Linked DNA regions of Homo sapiens: regions 2, 3, 4 and 5 are each linked to region 1. Evidence: fine-mapped expression QTL. A gene starts in region 1. Each other region holds a variant in brackets. All regions are shown on one strand. Distances are between the middles of the regions. Region 1 holds the start of PRRG4 (proline rich and Gla domain 4). Region 2 has its middle 7.8 kb from the start of QSER1. Region 3 overlaps CCDC73 (coiled-coil domain containing 73). Region 4 has its middle 23 kb from the start of QSER1. Region 5 overlaps CCDC73 (coiled-coil domain containing 73).

What was found. PIP is the estimated chance that this variant, and not a neighbour inherited with it, causes the effect. A credible set is the group of variants that fine-mapping cannot tell apart.
Region 2: its variant is the best candidate, but not a certain one, in a credible set for the expression of PRRG4 in monocytes (TOPMed, PIP 0.77).
Region 3: its variant is the best candidate, but not a certain one, in a credible set for the expression of PRRG4 in whole blood (TOPMed, PIP 0.50).
Region 4: its variant is the best candidate, but not a certain one, in a credible set for the expression of PRRG4 in whole blood (INTERVAL, PIP 0.58).
Region 5: its variant is the best candidate, but not a certain one, in a credible set for the expression of PRRG4 in whole blood (TOPMed, PIP 0.50).

The regions. Positions count from the first base shown.
Region 1 is chr11:32,827,373-32,832,479 of GRCh38, reverse strand. PRRG4 (proline rich and Gla domain 4) reads right to left here and starts at 2,553. Exons shown (of 6, transcript NM_024081.6): 1 at 2,307-2,553; 2 at 1,848-1,972. The coding sequence starts at 1,950. It also overlaps a transcript of CCDC73 not described here. RefSeq lists enhancers at 1,857-1,916, 1,927-1,976 and a silencer at 2,397-2,776.
Region 2 is chr11:32,882,442-32,887,548 of GRCh38, reverse strand. No RefSeq gene overlaps it. Among named protein-coding and RNA genes, the nearest start is that of QSER1, 7.8 kb to the left of the region's middle. The variant A/C (reference allele first, on the strand shown) is at 2,530.
Region 3 is chr11:32,746,301-32,751,407 of GRCh38, reverse strand. All of the region lies in intron 2 of CCDC73 (coiled-coil domain containing 73), which reads left to right. Among named protein-coding and RNA genes, the nearest start is that of CCDC73, 46 kb to the left of the region's middle. The variant C/T (reference allele first, on the strand shown) is at 2,954.
Region 4 is chr11:32,867,431-32,872,537 of GRCh38, reverse strand. No RefSeq gene overlaps it. Among named protein-coding and RNA genes, the nearest start is that of QSER1, 23 kb to the left of the region's middle. The variant TTG/G (reference allele first, on the strand shown) is at 2,153.
Region 5 is chr11:32,737,635-32,742,741 of GRCh38, reverse strand. The region is part of intron 2 of CCDC73 (coiled-coil domain containing 73); the gene reads left to right. Among named protein-coding and RNA genes, the nearest start is that of CCDC73, 54 kb to the left of the region's middle. The variant A/G (reference allele first, on the strand shown) is at 2,801.

The sequences.
Region 1 (5,107 bases):
GAATTTCACCAAAGGTCCTTTATTTCCAGTTACTTTTCATATCTCCATTTATTATAGCCCATTTGCAGATGGAAGGCATTGGCTTCTCTGCCATACAACTCTCTTGAGGCAGAGTTACTGCTACTCACTCTTTCCTCTGCTCTCAGTTCTGTGTTCTGGCTTCTGTTATACAGTTGATGGAGATCGTCTGTTTAACAAACACCCTGCCTCCCACACAGATGAAGATGTCCTCCAGGGCAGAGATTGCAGTCTTTCATTTCTATGTCTCCACCACACAGCACGGGGCCTGGCACTTAGCATGTGTTCATCAAGTGGTGACTGACTGAACAAGTTGTCTTTTCAAATGTGTCGGATCCCTCATTCACATTTCCACAGACATCTCCAGCCCTCCACACTCAAGTATGATCTCTAAATTCCTTCCATAGCTTGTGGTGTCCTTGAGACTGTCTTTTATTTATTTATTTATTTATTTGCTTTTATTTTTATTTTTTGAGATGGAGTCTCACTCTGTCGCCCAGGCTGGAGTGCAGTGGCACGATCTCAGCTCACTGCAGCCTCTGCCTCCCGGGTAGCTGGGATTATAGGCACGTGCCACCAAGCCAGGCTAATTTTTGTATATTTAGTAGAGACGGGGTTTCACCATGTTGGCCAGGCTGGTCTCGAACTCCTGACCGCAGGTGATCCACCTGCCTCGGCCTCCCAAAGTGCTAGGATTACAGGTGTGAGCCACCGTGCCGGCGAGAGTGTCTCTTATACCCGTGTCATGTGAATGAATGATTGCACTCACAATCATTTTAGGGAAGAGCATCTGATTATGGAACCTTATAAGTGCAACCTTCTAAGTGGACTTACATATATGGTGCAGCTTGAGAGGGACTAAAAAGGATCCTCTTCCAAAATCTCTCCCTCTCTCTCTAGCTAGCCTATCCAGTTGCTAGAATTCTGTCATCAGAGTTTCACGCCTTTGGGTTAATGGATTGTTCTAGCTCAACACACACAAACACAGCTGTATTAATCATTAATAAAGTCAGTTAGGAGTACTAGTGTAACAGATCCTTCCCAAATGAAAATGAGCTGAGAATCGGATCTGATGAGAAGGGATAAGAGACAGGAATGTGTGGGGACGTGGATCCAGAGTACTGACACTGAGTGGGGAAGCACCATGAATAGTCAGGGAGAAGGATGCTGAGAGACAGAGGCTTTTTTTTTCTTCTGGTTTTACTAGGTTAGGCTTTTAAGATATAGGCAGGAAACAAACTGTTAATGATCTGAAACCTAAAAACTGTGGACTTCCAGGTTAGCAAGCCCCAAACCTAATCTTTTCTCAACTAGCTGCTTTTATCTAGACAACTAGACCATCTGAAGTCAAAAAGGACCTCAGAGATCATTTTACGCCCCACCCGCATCACTTTTACAGATGAAGACATTCAAGCCAAACGGGATTAAGTTATCTCGCCCAGGGTCTCGCAAGTCCAGACTAGATCCTGGACTCCCCGTTCGCCTCTCCAGGAAGAACAAGTAATTATGCTTATTATAATCGCCACACAGCTTCATCTAGAGAAATGTCACTCACTGATTTTCAGAAGCTGAAATAGGTTTTCCATTCAATTAACCACAAACTAGGTCTTACGTATATACTTATTAAAGGAGACTCACAGACATCAAATTCTATAAATTGCAGTTAAAGAACATAAAAAAACACAACCTTGCCAAATATGCCACAAATTAAACTAAAGGATATTTTAGTGTTTCTATGATTGCTGGGGGTATGTAATTTCAAATACTGCACTTTCTCACTGAGATCTGTGCTATGCGGCTCTGGGTTCCAGGGACGTTTTAGTGCTTACCTTCTTCTCCCGCATGCTTAGAAGCCTTTGGACCTCTTGCGCAATGAGGAAACCCCAGGGTAACTGTGGGCAGTTGGCTGAGTAGAACCAGAAGCGTAAACATAGTCTGGCAACTGTCAAACAAACTAAAACAAACAAAAAAAAATATTAAAAAAAAAAGGCCCCTAGCTCAGCACTTTGAGTTTCTGTCGAACTGAATCACCAACCTGTTGTACTCAAAGCCTAGGCGCAAGAGCGCCCGGCGCGCGGTTTCGGTCGCCGGAACCCGACGCGCGCCCAGGAAGCAGCCCCTGAGAGCGCCTGGGACAAACGCCGTGCCCAGTGACCCTGCCGAGGGCTGATCGGGCACCTGTCGCCGCGGGCAACCCTCGCTATGTGTTCGAATCCAACCCAGTCCGCCGAGGTGGCCCCTTCCAGGTAACCCCCTCCCCGCCGAGGTCCTGCCGCCAGGCCTCGTACCTGTGTCCCCCCGCACATGTTCCAGCAGCCCCCGGGCCAGAGGCTCTTCTTGGGGCGGTTCCTTCGGCCGCCAGGCCCTCGGTCTCCGGCGCCCTCAAACCTCGGCGACGCTCCGGGCCTCGCTCTCCGCAGGGTCTGGATGGCCCCCGCGCGCAAACCTGGGAAGGGCCTGGGGTTCGCAGAGGGGCGCCCGGGGAACACGCGCGGGGTGAGGTCCTGCCTCGGTCCGGGGAGGCGGCCGACGGAGGACGGGAGGAGGCGGCTACCTGGGGACACCTGGCCGCGCCCCACCTCCCGGGGGCCGGGCCTACCTGCGGCGAGCGGGCGGGCAGTGGGCCGGCGTCTCCCGGGAGCCCGCGCTGCGCTCTCAGCCGCCCCAGCTTCTGCCCCATCCCCGGGCGGGCCAGCCGCCTGCCGCCAGTTCTGGCCCCGCCTTGGCGGCGCGGGTGGCTGCTTTTCGATTTGTGTCTGCACTCGGCGTTCTCAATGATCCTAATTCAGGAAGCATTTCGGTTCTCAGTCTTAAGCAGAGCGCCCTCGGCGCGTCCAGGGCTTTTCGCTTTGGGTCCCACTGGGCCAGGAGTCCTGTGGTTACCTTAGGTCAACTGTTCTCAAAAGGGTGGTCCGGGGACGAGGACAAGATATTCATCAGACAAAATACCCTTTATTCGTGATAAGAAATGGAAATGACCTTACAAGTAATTGATTACATTGGTTCTCCAATGGTGGTCCGCCAGGTCTGGGATGTCTCCAAGATCTTTTCCAGGGGTCTCTGAGGGCAAAACTATTTCCATTATAGTAACAATAAATGATTTGCCATTTTCACTTTCATTCTCTCAAGAGTGTACAGTGGAAATTTCCAGGGGCTATTTGAAGTGTAATAACGTCATCATTCTGTCTCCTAATAGAATACCTGAGTGAGCGTGCTTGTATTTTCTGGTATTTTCCATAGTAGTATGTTTACATTATCAGTATGTACATTTTATAGAGATTTATGTAGATTTATAGAGATTAATAAAATTTGTTCTCAGTACTTGTGAACTTAATTTTTTTTCTTTCCTTTTTTCTTTTTCAGAGTAGGGGGTCTCACTTTGTTGCCCAGGAACTCCTGGGCTCAAGAGATCCTCCTGTCTCATCCTCCAGAGTAGCTGGGACTACAGGTGTCCACCAACTCTCTTGGCTACTGCTTTTGTACTTTGATTAGTTCTATTTGTTCATATCTACTAGGATAGCTATAACCTCATTTTTCTGAAGTAATTATCTTGAAATCTTGATCTTTTCCTTGAGTCTATGCATAAACATAACAAAAAGTAAGCTTTGTTGTCTTGATTTCAAATAATATTTTGAAAATTTCTCAGTTTTAATGTTAGATAATAAATATCATTAGATAAAATTCACATAAGTGAAAGCTCTTTGGGGTCCTTGATAATGTAAAAGAGCGTAAAAAGGTCTTGATTAAAGACTTCAAAAACTGCTGCATCAAGTAATGAAGGCAGCAGGTGGACAGAGTACCTATGCCAGGTGATGGTCACATCCTTCTTTATCCAAAGAACGTGCTTAACAGTTCTTTGAAACACTATTTATGCTTTGGTCGAAGTGGTCTGGCACTTGCTGGGGACCAAGGGAAACATTTTTTCCCCCTTCATTTTTTTTTTTTTTTTCTTGAGACAGAGTCTTGCTCTGTCACCCAGGCTGGAGTACAGTGGCACAATCTTGGCTTACTGTAACCTTCGCCTCCTGGGTTCAAGCGATTCTCCTGCCTCAGCCTTCCGAGTAGCTGGGATTACAGGCATCCACCACCACGCCCGGCTAATTTTTTGTACATTTAGGAGAGAGGGGTTTTCACCATGTTGGCCAGGTTGTTCTCAAACTCCTGACCTCAGGTGATCCACCTACCTCGGCCTCCCAAAGTGCTGGGATTACAGGCATGAGCCACTGTGCCCGGCCTCAAATTTTTGACTAATTCAATTTTTACCAAATTCTGTTTTTCTCCTCCCAAAGGATATTGTCTATTTTATTATTATTATTGATAATCAACTGAATTATTCCTAAGTTTTCTGCAGAAATTTTGTTTTCACTGATTCCTTCTAGGCAGTGCTTTTCCTTTCCCTTCTTCCAATCCCTTCCTCTTCACTTTCCATTTGTCTACCTCGTGGTCTAAACTATTTCTATGATGGATTCTTCTTTCCCTCTTATTCAAGCAATTGGGATCAGACTATGAAGAGGCCAGACATGGTTTATTGTGGTTGAACACAAGAATAGGAAACATTTTCACTAGAACACCCATTTTCCTGTTTATTCATTGAGTCAACCTACAGCACTGAGACCTCCTGGTGGGGAGATGGACACCACAGCTTCTGTTGTGGAGGAGAACTTAATCTGACTGAGACCTATATCTGAGAATGTGGGCCTGTAAAGTTCTTATCAAGTGCAAGAACTGACTTATTCATTTTTGCATTCTCGACAGTACCCAGGGGAGTGCTTTCTACATTGTTCGTGCTGAATACATTTTCATGGAGTGGAAGCAATTTATCTTCAGGTAGGAAAAGTGCTTCATTTCCCACTACTTTGGGGAGAGGCCAATGGTCAAATGCCTCATGCTATGGAATCAGCAGTTGTGAACTTTGATGACATTCCTTGGTAAAATGAGTCTGCCCACATATCTGGATATTTGGACCAAAACAAATGAGGCCTTGTGCTGACATCAAATATCAGAGTTTATAGACAGAGAGGGAGGCAGACAGAGAAATGAAGTCTGTTTCTCAGTAGTGAATTACATCCCTGTGTGTTTCCCTGTAACA
Region 2 (5,107 bases), 55 kb before region 1:
ACTCACTGCGAGGGTCTGTGGCTTCGTTCTTGAAGTCAGTGAGACCAAGAACCCGCCAATTCCGGACACAGTCCTAGCTACTCCAAAGGCTAAGGCTGGAGGATCACTTGAACCCAGAATTTCGAGGTTACAGTAAGGAATGATCATGTCACTATGCTCCAGGCTGGGCAACAGAGCAAGACTCTGTTTCTAAAGAAAAATTAAAATAAAAAAAGTTAGAAGGAAACTAAGTCCCACTATAATTTTCTCTGTCTCTGAGGCTTGACCCTATCAATCATCTTTTGACTCTGCTCATTGTTGTCTGCCATACCCCTCCAGGGAGACAGCAATGGAATCAGGAAAGCTGCTGTTTAACCCTGCTTCTCTGGAAGCTGCAGCCTCACTAGGGGGTGTCCCTGAAAGAGCTTCAAGAAACATACTTGATCATCAATTTTGTGCGGAGAGGTAGTTTTCTGAGCTACGGATATGGAGGGACTTTGGGGCACTGATGAATGGTTTCGTTGATCAAGGGCCTGCAGTAAGCAAGGTTGAATGATTAGAAACCAGGAGGTCTGGGAAAGGAGTACAATTTAAGTATGAACTGGAAAGACAAGGCTGTGGCCTTGTCATGAAGTCTTTCACTGAGAGGACATTTTATCTCCCTAAATAGATTACAGGAGATTTAAACCTGTAGGTGAGAGTGATTCTCATAAGAATAACTGATACATATTGACAATGTATGTCTTAGGTCCTGTGCTAAGGGCTTTATGTGGAATTGTCACAATCCTCCTAAGATCCTTAAGATGTGGATATTTTTTATTATTAATCCGTTTTACAGGAAATTGAAGCTTAGTGAAATTAAGTAACTTTCCCAACATTGTACAAGCTAATATAAGACAGTGATGCAGGCAGGGCCTGGTGGCTCACGCGTGTAGTCCCAGCACTTGGGGAGGCCCAGGTGGGCGGATTGATTGAGCCCATGAGTTCGAGACCAGCCAAGGCAACATGGCAAAACCTGTCTCTACAAAAAATACAACAAGTAGCTGGGTGTGGTGGCGTGTGCCTGTATACCAGCTACTTGGGAGGCTGCAGCAGAAGGATTACCTGAGCCTGGGAGGCAGAGGTTACAGTGAGCTGTGATGTTGCCATTGCACTCTAGCCTGGGCAAGAGTGAGACTGTCTCCAAACAAAAAAACAAACAAAAAACCACAATGATGCAAGTGGAGCTTCAAATCAGCAATTTGACTCCAAACCAAATAGGCTTGGTTAAAGGAGTTACTGCCAGATTTCTCCTCTAAAGAGTTACTACATTTTACTTTGTAATCAATAAGTATTTCGTGGATACTTGAATATTGTGTAAATTCCTGAGGCCGGTGCAGTGGCTCACTCCTGTAACCTCAGCACTTTGGGAGGCCGAGGCGGGCGGATCACCTGAGGTCAGGAGTTCGAGACCACCCCGGCCAACATAGTGAAACCCCATGTCTACTAAAAATACAAAAATTAGCCGGGCATAGTGGCGGGCACCTGTAATCCCAGCTACTCAGGAGGCTGAAGCAGGAGAATTGCTTGAACCCGGGAGGCGGAGGTTGCAGTGAGCTAAGATCACGCCATTGCACTCCAGCCTGGGCAGTAAGAGTGAGAATCTGTCTAAAAAAAAAAAAAATTCTCAAGGCATCATTCTTTCACCTCTGCTTTAAGCATATGTATTACTGAAACAAGCATGTTCCGTAATCCCCCTCGAAGGACGTGCGACAGGGGTGTGGCTTGCCTATTTGATTGCCACCACTGCTCAAACCCCTGATGGGAGGGGGAGCACGCAGACAGGCAGGTGCAGGAGCGCAAGTGGGTGTGTGTTACCGTGTGCCCTTTTAGCCTTGCCGTCTGCAGACAGCTTGAGTGTTAGCCAGCTCAATGGACCCTCTGCCTTTCTGCAAGAGCAGAGGGCCAGTGTGACAGCTTTCTGTATCCTGAGCTCTTGTCCAGCGTCCCAGAAGAATGAGGTCACACACAGGCTTGAAGGATGAATGTGGGGTTTTACTGAGTGGCGGAGGTGGCAGTCAGTGGGATGGATGGGGAGCTGGAAGGGAGGATGGAGTGGGAAGATGATCCCCTAAAGTTTGGCCATCCAGCAGCCAAACTCCTCCCTGACTGCCCTCAGTTGAACTCCTCTTGGCGTTCAGACATTCCTCCTCTTCTCTCTTTCCCTGCTGTGCTGTGCCACAGCTCATCTGCTTGTCTCCTTGTCTCCTCGTCTGCTTGTCTGCTCATCTGCTTCTGGAGCCTGGGGTTCCAGGTTTATATGGGTAAGAGATAGGGGGCATGGTGGGCCAAAAGGCAATGTTTTGGGCATGAAAACAGGAATGCCTGTCTCCATTTAGGGCCATGGTCTACAGGCTTGAAGGTGGGGCCTTTGCCAGGGAACCACCCTCTTCTACGCAGAATTTCCCGATCTCCCTGTCTCCTGTTCATATCATTAGTTTCCTATGGCTGCTGCAACAAATGACCTCAAACTAGGTGACAACAGAAATTCATTATCTCACAGTTCTGAAG[A/C]CTGGAAGTCTGAAATCAAGGAGTTGGCAGGGTCATGCTCCCTCTAGAGGCTCTGCTATACACATACAGAGGACCAACTGTAGTGATTTTTCTAACTTCATCATTCCTTCTACATCATTAGTTATCATTCTTCAAGAAGGATTGTTCCTCATCCCTGTTAAAAAGAAAAGCCTCAGACAAATTAAATTTAATAGAGTTTAATTGAGCAAAAAATAACTTGGATTGGGCAGCCCCTGGATCAGAATAGGTTCAGAGAGGCTCCAGCACAGCTGTTTGGTGGAAGAAGATTTACAGACGGGAAAAGGAAGGTGATATACAGAAAATGGAAGTGAGTATTGATATCATTTGGCTCTGTGTCCCCACACAAATCTCATGTTGCATTGTAATTCCCAGTGTTGGGGGAGGGACCTAGTGGTAGGTGATTGGATCATGGGGGCGGGTTTCCTCCTTGTTATTCTTGTGATAGTGAGTTTTCACGAGATCTGGTTGTTTAAAAGTGTGTAGCACTTCACCCTTTACTCTCTCTGTCTTAAGCTGCCATGTGAAGAATTGCTTGTTTCCCCTTTGCCTTCTCCCACAATTGTAAGTTTCCTAAGGCCTCTGAAGCTTTGCCTCCTTTACAGCCTGCAGAACTGTGAGTCAATTAAACCTCTTTTCTTGATAAATTACCCAGTCTCAGGTAGTTCTTTATAGCAGTGTGAGAACAGACTAATACAAGTATAAAAACAGCTGATTGGTTACGGCTCAGTGTTTGCCTTATTTGAACATGGTTTGAACAGTTGGCCACCCTTGGTTGGCTAAAACTCAGTGATTGGCACAAGAATAGGTACAGTCTGTTTACACATCCAGTTAGGTTATAGTTCACCATGTACGGAGAAATTTTTAGGCTGACCTTAAAATATGTAAGGCGGCAGCTTTAGGCTAAACTTAATTTAACATTCCTTGTTTATTTATATCAATATGTACTCATGGATTTTTATTTTATTTAGCAGATTTGTAAAGGATTAACTCAGCAGGTGTGGGTTGTTCAAACCCTGTACATTGCAAAGAAAAGTTTGGCCCTTGCCTAGTTTCAAGGCTCTTAATAAAGAGTATTTTTGTTTAGTTAAGGCCTTGGGCCACACCAGATCATTCATGCTAACAATGCGATTTATAGTGGGCACTTTGGGCCACATAATATCAGCTTGACCTCTAGAGGGACTGGAGAATTCAGGTCAGCCATAGGAGCAATTACTATGACTATGCAATTGACCCCCAATAAAAACCCTGGACACCAAGGCTTAGGTGGGCTTCTGATTGACAATACTTCACGTGTGTTGTCACATAGTATTAATGTCCGCACAGCTCCACTGAAAGAGGACACTGGAAGCCTGCATCTGGTCTTTCTTGGACTCTGCACTATGTGCATTTTCATATTGTTGATTTTAATTTGCATCCTTTTACCATAATGAATCATAACCACGAGTATAACAATGTGTCTGAGTTCTTTGAGTTCTTGTAGCAAATCATTGAAATTGAGGGTGGTCTTAGGGGTCCCCAACCATAGGATTATAATCCATTACCACATTTGTTTATTTTGATGTTCAAATAGTCCCAGATTTGGACCATCATCCAAACATATAAGTACTTTAGTATACTTTCTCACAATAGGGAGCCATGAGAACATTTTAAGCAGGAGGATGAGTTGATCAAAGCTATGGAAAACATTCTCTTGCCCTTCCTAATGTCCCACTCTAGTCTACATCTTCAGCCTGGTTGGAACTGGTATGCCAAAAGACCCTTTATAGATTTATACACACATACTACACACACACACATACACACACACACACACTAAGAAAAGAAAAAAAAAACATTTCATTACCTAGGACAGTCTCATTGTACACCTGTTGTCCCAGTTGTTTGAAAACACAGCTTGAGGCAAATATTTTTCAGAGGGTTTGCCTCCAGAGGACTGAGCCCCAAACTAAGGGTGGTAGAGCATGTATCCTCAAGCCTCAGCTTCTCTTTGCTACAGCCTGGCCTAAGACACCAAAGCACACTCTGCCCTCTGCACAGCTGGTTTATATCCTCCCCCTTCCCTTAGGTACTTCTCTGTTCCCTTTATCGCAAAGCCCCAGATACGGTGGTGATAAAGGAAGGTTGTTGGGAGAGATCTAGACTTCACTTAATTATCATGCATGTTAATTTTTTTTTTTTTTTTGAGACAGGGTCTTGCTCTGTTGCCCAGGCTGGTGCAGTGGTGTGATCTTGGCTCACTGCATACTCCACCTCCCAGGTTCAAGCAATTCTCATGCCTCAGCCTCCCAAATAGCTGGGATTGCAGGTGTGCACTACCACACCTGGCTAATTTTTGTATTTTTAGTAGAGACGAGGTTTCACCATGTTGGCCAGGCTGTATGTTAGTTTTAGTATATGTAGTCTAACTGATATAGTTTGGCTATATGTCCCCACCCAAATCTCATGTGGAATTTTATTCCCCATGTGTCAGGGGAGGGACCTGGTGGGAGGTGACTGGATCATGGGGGTGGATTTCCCCCATGCTGTTCTCTTGATAGTGAGTGAGTTCTCATGAGAT
Region 3 (5,107 bases), 81 kb after region 1:
GCAAGTCCTAGTGCTGTACTGGTCTCAGAGCCAGTGGACTTGGACTGGTCTCGGAGCCATTGGAGAGAGCATGCGACCCAGTGACACACCAGTCGGGGTGGCAAAGGGAGTGCTTATGCCACCCCTCTTCAACCCCAGGCAGTGCAGTGTACAGCTCCCAAAGAGACTCCTTCCTGCTTGAAGAGAGGAGAGGGAAGAGGTAAGAGGATTTTGTTTTGCAACTTGGATACCAGCTTTGCCACAGTAGGATAGGGCACTGGGCAGAGTTATCAGGCTCCCATTCCAGGCCCTAACTCCCAGACAACATTTCTAGACACATCCTGGATTAGACAGGAAACCTGCTGCCTTGAAGGGAAGGATTCAGTTCTGGCAGGATTCACTACCTGCTAACTTAAGAGCGCTTGGGCCTTGAATAATCGGCAGCAATAACCAGGTAGTACATGCTGTGGGCCTTGGGTGAGACTCAGACATGCTGGCTTCAGGTGTGATCCAGCATATTCACAGCTATGGTGGCTATGAGGAGAGACCCCTTCCACTTGAGAAAAGGAGGGGGAAGAATAAAGGGAACTTTTCTTGCAGCTTAGGTACCAGCTTGGCTACAGTGGGGAAGAGCACCAAGTGGGCTCTAGGGGTTCCCAATTCCAGGCATTGGCTCATGGACAGCATCTCTGGACCTACCCTGGGCCAGAGGGGAGCCCACTGTCCTGAAGGGTGTGTCCTGGCCTGGACTTGGGCCTTAAGTGAACATCAGTGGTACCCTGTCAATACTCCCTGTTGGCTGTGGTGGTGGTGGCCATGGGGAGAGATTCCTCTGCTTTGGGAAAGTTGAGGGAAGAACGGGAAGAACCTTGTCTTGTGGTTTTGGTGCCAGCTTAGCCACAGTGGAATAGAGCACCAGGTGGATTTCTTAGGTTTTTGACTCTGGGCCCTGGCTCCTGGATGGCATGGACCTGCCTAGAGCTCAGGGACAGTCACTTCCCTGAAAAGAAGGATACAAGACTGCCTGGCTTTGCCACCTGGTGATTGTAGATCGCTAAGGCCTTGAGTGCACACTGGTGGTAGTCAGGTAGTGGCTATAGCAGGCCTTGGGTAAGACCCAGTGCTGTACTGGGTTCAGGTCTGACCCAGTGCAGTCCCAGTGGTGGTCGTCACAGGGGTGCTTGTGTCACCTGTCCCCCAACTCCAGGAAGCTCAGCACAGAGAGATAATCCATTTATTTGGTAGAAAGTGAGAGTAGAGGCCAGGAGCGTTGGCTCACGCCTGTAATCCCAGCATTTTGGGAGGCTGAGGCAGGCGGATCACGAGGTCAGGAGTTTGAGACCAGGCTGGCCAACACAGTGAAACCCCGTCTCTACTAAAAATACAAAAAATTAGCCGGGCGTAGTGGTCGGTGCCTGTAATCCCAGCTACTTGGGAGGCTGAGGCAGGAGAATGGCTTGAACCCGGGAGGTGGAGGTTGTGGTGAGCCAAGATTGTGCCATTGCACTCCAGCCTGGGCGACAGAGCAAGACTCCGTCTCAAAAAAAAAAAGAAAAAAAAAAAAGTAAGAGGAGAGAATGAGTCCCTGCTTGGTAATTCAGATAATTCTTCTGGATCTTATCCAAGACCACCAAGGCAATACTTCTGAGTCTACAAGAACTACATCGTTATTGGGCTTGTGGTGCCCCCTAGTGCAGATGCGGCTGCAGTGACAAAAAACTTAGATCACAACACTCAGGTCCCTTCAAATACCTGGAAAGCCTTCCCAAGAAGGATGGGTACAAAAAGGCCAGACTGTGAAGACTACAAAAAATACCCCACTCTTCAATGCCCAGACACTGACGAACACTCACAAGCATCAAGACCATCCAGAAAAACATACCTCACCAAACAAACTAATAAGGCAACAGGGACCAGTCCCAGAGAAAGAGAGACATGTGAACTTTCAGAGAAGTCAAAATAGCTGTTTTGAGGAAGCTCAAAGAAATTCAGGATAACACAGAAGAATTTAGAATTCTGCCAAATAAATTTAATAAAGAGATTGAAATAATTAAAAAAGAGTCAAGCAGAAATTCTGGAATTGAAAAATGCAATTGACATACTGAAGAATGCATCAGAGTCTCATAATAGCAGAATTGATCAAGCAGAAGAAAGAATTAGTGAGCTTGAAGACAGGCTGTTTGAAAATATACAGTCAGAGAAAAAAGAAACACACATACAAAATCGAGAAAATAGCCTCAAAAGGGCAAATCTAAGTGTTTTTGGCCTTAAAGAGGACGTAGAGAGAGAGAGGAGTAGAAAGTTTATTCAATGGGATAATAACAGAGAACTTCCCAAATCTTTAGAAAAATATCAATATTCAAATACAAGAAGGTTATAGAAAACCATGCAGATGTAACCCAAAGAAGACTACCTTGAGGCATTTAATAATCACACTCCCAAAGGTCAAGGATAAAGAAAGATTCCTAAAAGCATCAAGATAAAAGAAACAAATAACATACATGGAGCTCCAATACATCTGGCAGCAGACTTTTCAGTGGAAACCTTACAGGCCAGGACATATTTATGGTGCTGAAGGAAAAAAGGTTTTACCCTAGAATAGTATGTACAGTGAAAATATCCTTCAAACATGAAGGAGAAATAAAGACTTACCCAGATAAATAAAAGCTGAGGGATTTCATTAACACCAGACCTGTCCTACAAGAAATGCTAAAGAGAAGTCTTCAGTCCAAAAGAAAAGGATGTTAATCAGTGATAAGAAATCATCTGAAGGTAAAACTCACTGGTAATAGTAGGTACACAGAAAAACACAGAATATTATAACACTGTAAGTGTGATGTGTAAACTACTTATATCTTAAGTAGAAAGATGAAAAGATGAACCAATTAAAAATAATAACTACAACAGCTTTTCAAGACATAGACAGTATAATAAGATATGAATGGAAACAACAAAAATGTAAAAAGTGAGGAGA[C/T]AAAGTTAAATTATTGAGTTTTTATAAGTTTTCTTTTGCTTGTTTGGTAATTAGCTTGTTTGTTTATGCAATCAGTATTAATTTGTTATCACTTTAAAATAATGGGTTAAAGATAGTATTTGCAAGCCTAATGGTAACCTCAAATTGAAAACCATACAAGAGATGCACAAAAATAAAAAGCAAGGAATTAAAAAATACCACCAGAGAAAAATCACCTTCATTGAAAGAAAGACAGGAAGGAAGAAAAAAGGAAAACCACAAAACAACCAGAAAAAAAAAATAACAAAATGATGAGAGATAGTCCTCACTTATCAATAATAACATTGAATGTAAATGGACTAAATTCTCCAATAAGAACATGTAGGATGGGTCGCTTCCAAGATGGCTGAATAGGAACAGCTTCGGTCTACAGCTCCCAGGGAGACTGATGCAGAAGATGGGTGATTTCTGCATTTCCAACTGAGATACCTGGTTTATCTCGTTGGGACTGGTTGGACAGTGGGTGCAGCCCGTGGAGGGCGAGCTGAAGCAGAGCGGGGTGTCGCCTCACCCAGGAAGCGCAAGAGGTCAGGGGATTTTCCTTTCCTAGCCAAGGGAAGATGTGACTGTACCTGGAGGAACAGTACACTCCTGTGCAAATACTGCACTTTACCATGGTCTTCGCAACTGGCTGACCAGGAGATTCCCTCCTGTGCCTGTCTCGGCAGGTCCAACGCCCATGGAGCCTTGCTTGCTTGCTAGTGCAGCAGTCTGAGATTGACCTGGGATGCTGAAATTTGGCAGGGGGAGGGGCATCTGCCATTGCTGAGGCTTGAGTAGGTGGTTCTGTGCTCACCGTTTAAACAAAGCAGCAAGGAAGCTTGAACTGGGTAGAGCCAACTGCAGCTCAGCAAGGCCTACTGCCTCTCTAGATTCCACCTCTGGTGGCAGGGCATATCTGAACAAAAGGCAGCAGATAGCTTCTCCAGACTTAAACATCCCTGCCTGACAGCTCTGAAGACATCATTGGTTCCGCCAGCATGGTGTTCAAGCTCTGATGACAGACAGACTGCCTCAAATGGGTCCCTGACCCCCTTTAGCCTGACTGGGAGATCTCCCAGTAGGGACCAACAGACACCTCATATAGGCAGGTGCCCCTCCCTCTGGGACGAAGCTTCCAGAGGAAGGATCAGAGAGCAATATTTGCTGTTCTGCAGCCTCCACTGGTGATACCCAGGCAAACAGGGTCTGGAGTGGACCTCCAGCAAACTCCAACAGACCTGCAGCTGAGGAGACAGTCTGTTAGAAGGAAAACTAACAAACAGAAAGGAATAGCATCAACATCAACAAAAAGGACGTTCACACCAAAACACCATCCGTAGGTCACCAACATCAAAGACCAAAGGTAGATAAAACCACAAAGATGGGGAGAAACCAGAGCAGAAAGGCTGAGAATTCCAAAAACCAGAATGCCTCTTCTCCTCCAAAGGAACACAACTCCTCGCCAGCAAGGGAAAAAAACTGGACAGAGAATGAGTTTGACAAGTCGACAGAAGTAGGCTTCAGAAGGCCAGTAATAACAAACTTCTCCGAGCTAAAGGAGCATGTTCTGACCCATTGCAAGGAAGCAAAAAACCTTGAAAAGTTAGACAAATGGCTAACTAGAATAACCAGTGTAGAGAAGAGCTTAAGTGACCTGATGGAGCTGAAAACTACAGTACGAGAACTTCGTGAAGCATACACAAGCTTGAGTAGCCAATACGATCAAGCTGAAGAAAGGATATCAGTGATTGAAGATCAAATTAATGAAATAAAGTGAGAAAACAAGATTAGAGAAAAAAGAATGAAAAGAAACGAACAAAGCCTCCAAGAAATATGAGACTATGTGAAAAGACCAAATCTACGTTTGATTGGTGTACCTGAAAGTGACAGGAAGAATGGAAACAAGTTAGAAAACACTCTTCAGGATATTATCCTGGAGAACTTCCCCAACCTAGCAAGGCAGGCCAACATTCAAATTCAAAAAATACAGAGAACACCACAAAGATACTCCTTGAGAAGAGCATCCCCAAGACACATAACTGTCAAATTCACCAAGGTTGAAATGAAGGAAAAAATGTTAAGGGCAGCCAGAAAGAAAGGTTGGGTTACCCACAAAGGGAAGCCCATCAGACT
Region 4 (5,107 bases), 40 kb before region 1:
CTTCATTCCTTTTTCTAACTGAATAATATCCCCTTGTATGTATATACTACTTTTTGTTTATTCACTCATAGGTTGATGAACATTTGGGAGTTTCCACTTTTTGGTTATTACGCATAATGCTGCTATAAACAATTTTTTATGTGAACATACGTTTTCAATTCTCTTGAAAACATAATTGGAATTCTCTTGGAAAGAAAGTTGGAAAATTAAATTTTAAAGATGTCATCTAGAACAGTGTAAAAAGACATTAAGTACTTAAGGATGAATTTAACAAAATAGACGTAACTCCTATATACCGAAACCTATAAACATTGCTGAGATAAATTTAAAAGATCTTAATACATGAGAAAACATACTATGGGCTGGGCACAGTGGATCACACCTGTAATCCCAGGATTTTGGGAGGCTGAGGCAGGCAGATCATTTGAGGTCAGGAGTTCGAGACCAGCCTGGCCAACATGGTGAAACCCTGTCTCTACAAAAAGTACAAAAATTATCTGGGCATGGTGGCATGCACTTGTAATTCCAGCTGCTCAGGAGGCTGAGGCAGGAGAATCACTTGAACCTGGGAGGCAGATGTTGTAGTGAGCTGAGATCGCACCGCTGCACTCCAGCCTGGGCAACAGAGCAAGACTTTGTCTAAAAAAACAAACAAACAAACAAAAAAACTATGGATTGTTTAATACATGTAAGTTTTTCTATAAATTAAATGCAATTCTAGTCAAATTTTCAGCAGTCTTTTGATTTAGAAATTGACTAGCTAATTCCAAAATGTATGCAATGTTAAATGTATTAAATAGCCAAAAATTTTTTGGGAAAGAACAAAGTTTGAGAACTTAGACTACTTCTTTTGAAGACTTATGACAAGGCTACAGTCATCAAGATAATATGATATTGATATAAGGATAAACTATGATCAGTAAAACAGAACCCCATATGTGTGATCAATTGATTTTCAGCAAAGGTACCAAGATAATTCAGCGGAGAAAGGACAGCCTTTTAAAGATGTGTTGCTAAAACAACTGCATAGTTGCATGGAAGAAAATGAACTTCAGCTCTTACCTGATAAACATAAAAATTAGACTTACATGTAAAAGCTGCATTTATAAAGTGACTAGAAGAAAACATTAAAAAGAAATCTTCTGGCTGGGTGCGGTATCTCAACGCCTGTAATCCCAGCACTTTGGGAGGCTGAAGTGGGCAGATTGCCTGGGCTCAGGAGTTCGCGACCAGCCTGGGCAACACAGTGAAACCCCATCTCTACTAAAATACAAAAAAAAAAAAAATTAGCCAGGGGTGGCAGCATGTGCCTGTAGTCCCAGCTACTCGGGAGGCTAAGGCAGGAGAATTGCTTGAACCTAGTAGGTGGAGGTTGCAGTGAGCCGAGATGGCGCCACGGCACTCCAGCCTGGGCGACAGAGCGAGACTCCGTCTCAAAAAAAAAAATCTTCACAACCTTGAGTAGACAATGATTTCTTAAACATGAATTCACCATCTTCTTGGTTTTGCTGGCTTTCCAAATAAATCTGGCTTTTCCTCCCACCAACCCTCATTTCTCGTGTCTGGTTTTTGAGCAGCAAGCAGCCAAACATAGGTTCAGTTACAAAATTTGGCACCCAATGTGGGGCTGTGTGCCCTCTGGTGGTCTAGCCTGCCTGGTTTCCATGGATGGAGCAATTGGCTGCAGCAGTGCACCAGGGCTTACCTGTTCATGTTATCAGGCAGAGCAGCAACCGCTTATGAGTGCTAGTTGCTGCTCATGGCTAGCTGCCTCTGTGGCTGGGATTCCAGGAGTGTCCTAGCAGCAACTGAGAAATCTTTTGTCTTGGGGACCCTCTCTTCTGTCCCCTTCATGGAATCAGCAGCCTGTAACACTTTGGTGGTGCAAGTGGTATCCAAGGGAGTTGATGGGCCCCAAGACTGGGTAAGTCAAACCAGGGCACACACGGGGAATCCTCTGTCTATGCTATTTGAGCTTTTGTGTCATTTGGACATAGCATGGGTTGCTTGTGTATCATTTGGTGTAAGATAAGATTCTTGATAACATTTCTGCAGTGCCCCTTTTCAGGAATGAGTTTGGGAGTGTTACATTTGTTTTGGTTTCTATGTGTTTATTAGTTTATTATTATTATTATTATTTTTTTTTTTTTTT[TTG/G]AGATGGAGTCTCGCTCTGTCACCCAGGCTGGAGTGCAGTGGTGCGATCTTGGCTCAATGCAACCTCCGCCTCCCGGGTTCAAGTGATTCTCCTGTCTCAGCTTCCTGAGTAGCTGGGATTACAGGCAGGCGCTACCACACCTAGCAAATTTTTGTATTTTTAGTAAAGACGGGGTTTCACCATGTTGGCCAGGCTGGTCTTGAACTCTTGTCCTCTGGTGATCCACCTGCCTCGGCCTGCCAAAGTGCTGGGATTACAGGCATGAGCCACCGCGCCCGGCCTAATTATTATTTTTAAATTTTATTTTATTTTTATTTTTTGAGATGTAGTCTCGCTGTGTTGCCCAGGCTAGAGTGCAGTGGGGCAATCTCAGCTCACTGTAACCTCTACCTCCCGGGTTCAAGCAATTCTCCTGCCTCAGCCTCCCGAGTAGCTGGGATTACAGGTGCGCACCACGATGCCTGGCTAATTTTTGTATTTTTAGTAGAGATGGGGTTTCACCATGTTGGTCAGGCTGGTCTCGAACTCCTGACCTCATGATCTGCCTGCCTTAGCCTCCCAAAGTGCTGGGATTACAGGCATGAGCCACTGTGCCTGGCCTTAATTATTATTTTTTAAAAGAATTTCAGGCCGGGCGCAGTGGCTCACACCTGTAATCCCAGCACTTTGAGAGGCCAAGACAGGCGGATCACCTGAGGTCAGGAGTCTGAGACCAGCCTGGCCAACATGGTGAAACACCGTCTCTGCTAAAAATACAAAAATTAGCCGGGTGTGGTGGCTCGCGCCTGTAATCCCAGCTACTCCAGAGGCTGAGGCAGGAGAATTGTTTGAACCGGGAAGGCGGAGGTTGCAGTGAGCGGAGAATACACCATTACACTCCAGCCTGGGCAATAAGAGTGAAACTCCGTCTGAAAAAAAAAAAAAAAAAGGAATTTCAGTTAGTTTATCTTGAGACATAGCTTACATTAAAATTATATTAAAACAAGCTTTAATTTTGAGCCATACATTGATGGATTATTTTATCACAAGTAGTTCTTTATTTCTACTCACATTATTTTATTTTATTTTCACTTTATTTTATTTTTTACTCTATTGTTTTACTTTTAGGTTCAGAGGTACATGTGAAGGCTTGTTATATAGGTACACTTGTGTCATGGGGGTTTGTTGTACAGATTATTTCATCACCCAGGTATTAAGCCTAGTACACAATAGTTATTTTTTCTGCTTCTTCCTTCTTCCCACCCTCCACCCTCAAGTAGACCCTAGTGTCTGTTGTTCCCTTCTTTGCGTTCATGAGTTATTTAGCTTCCACTTATAAGTGAGAACATGTGGGATTTGGTTTTCTCTTCCTGCGTTAGTGTGCTAAGGATAATAACCTCCAGCTCTATCCATGTTCCTGCAAAAGACATGATCTTGTTCTTTTTCATGGCTGCATAGTATTCCATGGTGTATATGTACCACATTTTCTTCATCCAGTCTATCATTGATGGGCATTTAGGTTGATTCCATGTCTTTACTTTTGTGAATAGTGCTGCAGTGAACATTCGTGTGCATGTGTCTTTGTGTTAGAATGATTTATATTCCTCTGGGTGTATATACCCGGGAATGAGATTGCTGGGTTAAATAGTTCTGTTTTTAGTTCTTTGAGGAATCGCCATACTGTTTTCCACAATGGTTGATCTAATTGACATTTTCACCAACAGTGTATAAGTGTTCCCTTTTCTTTGCAACCTCACCAGCATCTGTTATTTTTTGACTTTTTAATAATAGCCATTCTGACTGTGCGAGATGGTATCTCATTGCGGTTTTGATTTGCATTTCTCTAATGTTCAGTGATATATTTTTTTTCTTATATGCTTGTTGGCCACATGTATGTCTTCTTTTGAAAAGTGTCTGTTCATGTCCTTTGCCCACTTTTAATGGGATTATTTTTCTTTTCTCTTTTCTTTTTTTTTTTTTTTTTTTTTGAGATGAAGTCTTGCTCTGTCACCCAGGCTGGAGTGCAGTGGTGCAATCTCGGCTCACTGCAACCTCCGCCTTCCAGGTTCAAGCTATTCTTCCACCTCAGCCTCCCGAGTAGCAGGGACTACAGGTGCATGCCACCATGCCCAGCTACTTTTTGTATTTTTAGTAGAGACAGGGTTCCACCATATTGGCCAGGCTGGTCTCGAATTCCTGACCTTGTGATCCACCCACCTCGGCCTCCCAAAGTGCTGGGATTACAAGCGTGAGCCACTGCGCCCAGCCTGATTGTTTTTCTATTGTAAATTTAAGTTCCTTATAGATGCTGGATATTAGACATTTGTCAGATGCATAGTTTGCAAGTATTTTCTCCCATTCTGTAGGTCCTCTGTTTACTCTGTTGATAGTTTCTTTTGCTGTGCAGAAGCTCTTAAATTTAATTAGATCCCATTTGTCAATTTTTGGTTTTGTTGTGATTGCTTTTGGTGTCTTTGTCATGAACTCTTTTCCCATTCCTATGTCCAGGATGGTATCACCTAGGTTGCCTTCCAGGGTTTTTATAGTTTTGGGTTTTACATTTAAGTCTTTAATCCATCTTGAGTTGATTTTTGTATATGGTGTAAGGAAGGAGTCCAGCTTCAAACTTCAGCATATAGCTAACCAGTTATCCTAGCACCATTTATTGAATAGAGAATCTTTTTCCCATTTCTTGTTTTTGTCAGCTTTGTCAAAGACCTTGTGGTCATAAGCGTGCAGCCTTGCTTCTGAACTCTCTATTCTGTTCCCTGGGTCTATGTGTCTGCTTTTGTACCAGTACCATGCTGTTTTGGTTACTGTAGCCCTGTAGTATAGGTTGAAGTTGGGTAACATGATGCCTCCAGCTTTGTTCTTTTTGCTTAGGATTGCTTTGGCTATTTGGGCTCTTTTTTTGTTCTGTATGAATTTTAAAATAGTTTTTTTCTAATTCTGTGAATAATGTCATTGGAAGTT
Region 5 (5,107 bases), 90 kb after region 1:
GACATAGGCGTGGGCAAAGACTTTATGTCTAAAACACGAAAAGCAATGGCAACAAAAGCCAACATTGACAAATGGGATCTAATTAAACTAAAGAACTTCTGCACAGCAAAGAAAGTATCATCAGAGTGAACAGGCAACCTACAGAATGGGAGAAAATTTTTGCAATCTACTCATCTGACAAAGGGCTAATATCCAGAATCTACAAAGAACTCAAACAAATTTACAAGAAAAAAGCAAACAACCCCATCAAAAAATGAGCAAAGGATGTGAACAGACACTTCTCAAAAGAAGACATTTATGCAGCCAAGAGACCTGTGAAAATATGCTCATCATTGCTGGTCATTAGAGAAATGCAAATCAAAGCCACAGTGAGATACCATCTCATGCCAGTTAGAATGGTGATCATTAAAAAGTCAGAAAACAGCAGATGCTGGAGAGGTTGTAGAGAAATAGGAATGCTTTCACGTTGGTGGGAGTATAAATTAGTTCAACCATTGTGGAAGACAGTGTGGCGATTCCTCAAGGATCTAGAACTAGAAATACCATTTGACCCAGCCATGCCATTACTGGGCATATACCCAAAGGATTATAAATCATGCTGCTGTAAAGACACATGCACACGTATGTTTATTGCGGCACTATTCACAATAGCAAAGACTTGGAACCAACCCAGGTGTCCATCAATGATAGACTGGATTAAGAAAATGTGGCACATATACACCATGGAATACTATGCAGCCATAAGAAAGGATGAGTTCATGTCCTTTGTAGGGACATGGATGAAGCTGGAAACCATCATTCTCAGCAAACTATCACAAGATCAGAAAACCAAACACCACATGTTCTCACTCATAAGTGGGGGTAGAACAATGAGAACACATGGACACAGGGAGAGGAACATCACACACAGGGGCCTGTGGGGGGTGGGTGACTAGGGGAGGGATAACATTAGGAGAAATACCTAATGTACATGACAGGTTGATGGGTGCAGGAAACCACCATGGCATGTGAATACCTATGTAACAGAACTTCACATTCTGCACATGTAATCCAGAATTTAAAGTATATATAAATATATATAAATACATAAAGAACATGTAGCGTGGCTGAATAGATTAAAAAAAAAGACTCAACAATCTGTTACCTACAAGAGACACACTTCACCTATAAAGTCACACATAGACTAAAAATAAAGGGATGAAAAAGATATTCCATGCAAATGGAAACCAAAAAAGAGCAGGAGTAGCTATATTTATATCAGACAAAATAGTTTTTGTTTTGAGAAAACAAAGAAGGTGTTTTGAGGGACAAAGAAGGTCATTATATAATGATAAAGGGGTCAAGTCAGAAAGAGGATATAACAGTTGTAAAAATATATGCATTAACACTGGAGCACCCGTATGTTTAAAACAAATGTTACTAGAGCTAAAGAGAGAGATAGACTTTCATACAATAATAGTTGGAGACTTCAACACTCCACTTTCAACATTGGACAGATCATCCAGACAGAAAGTCAACAAAGAGACACTGGACTTAATCTGTACTGTAGACCAAGTGAACCTAATAGGTACTTATAGAACATTTCATCCAATAGCTGCAGAATACAAATTATTCTCCTCAGCACATGGATCATTCTCAAGGTTAGACCATATGTTAGGCCACAAAACAAGTCTTAAAACATTTAAAAAATTGAAATAATATCAAGTATTTTCTTTGACAACAATGGCATAAAACTGGAAATCAATAATGAGGAATTTTGGAAAGTATGCAAACAATGGAAATTAAACAGTATGCTCCTGAATGATCAGTTGGTCAATGAAGAGATCAAGAAGGAAATTGAAAAATGTCTTGAGACAAACGATAATGGAAACACAACATACCAAAACCTATGGGATACAGCAAAATCAATAGTAAGATGGAAGTTTATAGCTGTAAGTGTCTACATCAAAAAAAAAGAAAAACTTCAAATAAACAACCTAATTATACATCTTAAGGAACTAGAAAAGCAAGAGCAAACCAAACCCAAATTTAGTAGAAGAAAAGAAATGATAAAGATCAGAGCAGAAATAAATGAAACAAGAAAAACAATACAAAAAAGCAACAGAAAGTTCTTTTTTTGAAAAAATAAAATTGACAAACTGTTATCCAGACTAAGAAAACAAGAGAAAAGACCCAAATAAATAAAATCAGAGATGAAAAAGGAGACATCACAACTGATACTGCAGAAATTTGAAGGATCTTTAGAGGCTATGAGCAGCTATATGCCAATAAATTGGAAAACCTAGAAGAAATGGATAAATTTCTAGACACATATAACCTACCAAGATTAAACTATGAAGAAATCCAAAACCTGAAGAGACCAATAACAAGTAATGAGGCAGAAGCTGTAGTAAAAAGTATCCCAGCAAAGAAAAAGCCTGGGACCCAATGGCTTCACTGTGGAATTTTATCAACCATTTAAAGAAGAACTAATACCAATTCTACTCAAACTATTCCAAAAAAAAGTAGAGGCAGAAGGAATACCTCCATAATCATTCTACAAGGCTGTTATTACACTGATACCAAACCAGACAAAGACACATTACAAAAAAAAGAAAGAAAAAGAAAACTACAGGCTAATATCTCTGATGAACATTGATACAAAAATTCTCAACAAAATACTAGCAAACAGCATTCAACAACAGATTAAAAGTATCATTTATCATGACCAAGTGGGATTTATCACAGGGATCCAAGGATGTTTCCACATATGCAAATCAATGTGATATAGCATATCAACAGAATGAAGGACAAACATATA[A/G]CTATTCCAATTTATTCTGAGAAAACATTTGATAAAATTCAACGTCCCTTCATAATTAAAAACCCTCAAAAACTGGATATAAAAGGAGCATACCTCAATACAGTAAAAGCCATATATGATAGACCAAGAGCTAGTATTATACTGAATGGGAAGAAACTGAAACCTTTTCCTCTAAAATCTGGAACATGACAAGGATGCCCACTGTTATTCAACATAATACTGGAAGCCCTAGCTAGAGCAATCAGACAAGAATAAATAAAGGGCATCCAAATTGGAAAGGATGAATTCAAATTATCCTTGTTTGCAGATGATATGATCTTCTATTTGGAAAAACCTAAAGATTCCACCAAAAACTATTAGAACTGATAAACATATTCAGTAAAGTTGCAGAATACAAAATCATCATACAAAAACCAGTAGCATTTCCATATGCCAACAGCAAGCAATCTGAAAAAGAAGTCAAGAAAGTAATCTCATTTACAATAGCTACAAATAAAATTAAATATCTAAGGAATAACTTAATCAAAGAATTGAATGCTCTCTACAATGAAAACTATAAAACATTGGTGAAAGAGATGGAAGAGAACACAAAAAATAATGGAAAGATATTCCATGTTCATGGTTTGGAAGAATCAATATTGTTCAAATGCCCATACTACCCACAGCAATCTACAAATTTAAAGCAATGCCAATGAAAATATTAATGGCATTCTTCAGAGAAATAGAAAAAAAAATTCTAAAATTTATATGGAACCACGAAAGACCCAGACTAGCCAAAGCTATCCTGAACAAAAAGAACAGAACTGCAGGAATCACATTGCCTGACTTCAAATTATACTACAGAACTATGGTAACCAAAACAGCATGGTACTGGCATTAAAAACAAACACATAGACCAATGCAACAGAATAGAGAACCCAGAAACAAAGTCACACACCTATAGTGAACTCATTTTCAACAAAGGTGCCAAGAACATACATTGAGGAATGACTGTTCAATAAATGGTGCTGAAAAACCTGGATATACATGTGCGGAAGAATGAAAGTAGACCACTATGTTTCCGTATACAAAAACAAAACCAAAATGGACTAAAGACTTAAATCTAAAACCTCAAGCCATGAAATTACTAAAAGAAAATATTGGGGGAAACTCTCCAGGACATTGGACTGGGCAGAGATTTCTTGAGTAATACCCAGAAGCACAGGAACCAAAGCAAAAATGGACAAATGGGATCACATCAAGCTGAAAAGCTTCTGCACAGCAAAAGAAACAATCAACAAAGTGAAGAGAAAACTCACAGAACGGGAGAAAATATTTGCAAATGATCAATCTGACAAGGGATAAATAACCAAAATACATAAAGAGCTCAAACATCTATATAGGAAAAAATCTAACAATCCAATTTAAAAATGGGCAAAAGATCTGAATATTTCTCAAAAGAAGGCATACAAATCGCACACAGGTATATGAAAAGATGTTCAACATCACTGATCATCAGAGAAATGCAAATCAAAACTACAATGAGATACCATCTCACCCCAGTTAAAGTAGCTTTTATCCAAAAGACAGGCAATAACAAATGTTGTTGAGGATATGGAGAAAAGAGAACCCTCATACACTGTTGGTGGAAATGTAAATTAGTATAACCCCTACGGAGAACAATTTGCAGGTTTCTTAAAAAACTGAAAATAGAGCTACCATATGATCCAGCAATCCCACCACTAGGTATATACCCAAAGGAAAGGAAATCAGTGTATCAAAGAGATATCTGTACTCCCGTGTTTATTGTAGCACTATTCACAGTAACCAAGATTTTGAAGCAACCTAAGTGTCTGTAAATAGATGAATGGATAATGAAAATGTGGTACATATACACAGTGTATATGAATGTATAACTCAGCCATAAAGAAGAATGAGATCTTATTACTTGCAACAACACGGATGGAACTGGAGGTCATTATGTTAAGTGAAATAAGCCAGGCACAGAAAGATAAACTTTGCATGTCCTCACTTATTCGTGGGAGGTAAAAATTAAAACAGTTGAACTCATGGAGATAGAGAGTAGAATGATGGTTACTAGAGGCTGGGAAGGGTAGTGGGAGTGGGGTTAGGGGTGAGCTGGGGATGGTTCATGGGTACAAAAAAAAATAAGACTGAATAAGATCTAGTAACTGATAGCACAATAAGGTGACTATAGTCTAATAATTTAGTTGTACATTTAAAGATAACTGAGAGTATTAACTGGATTATTTGTAACATAAAGGATAAATGCTTGAGGTGATGGATGCCCTACTTACCCTGATGTGA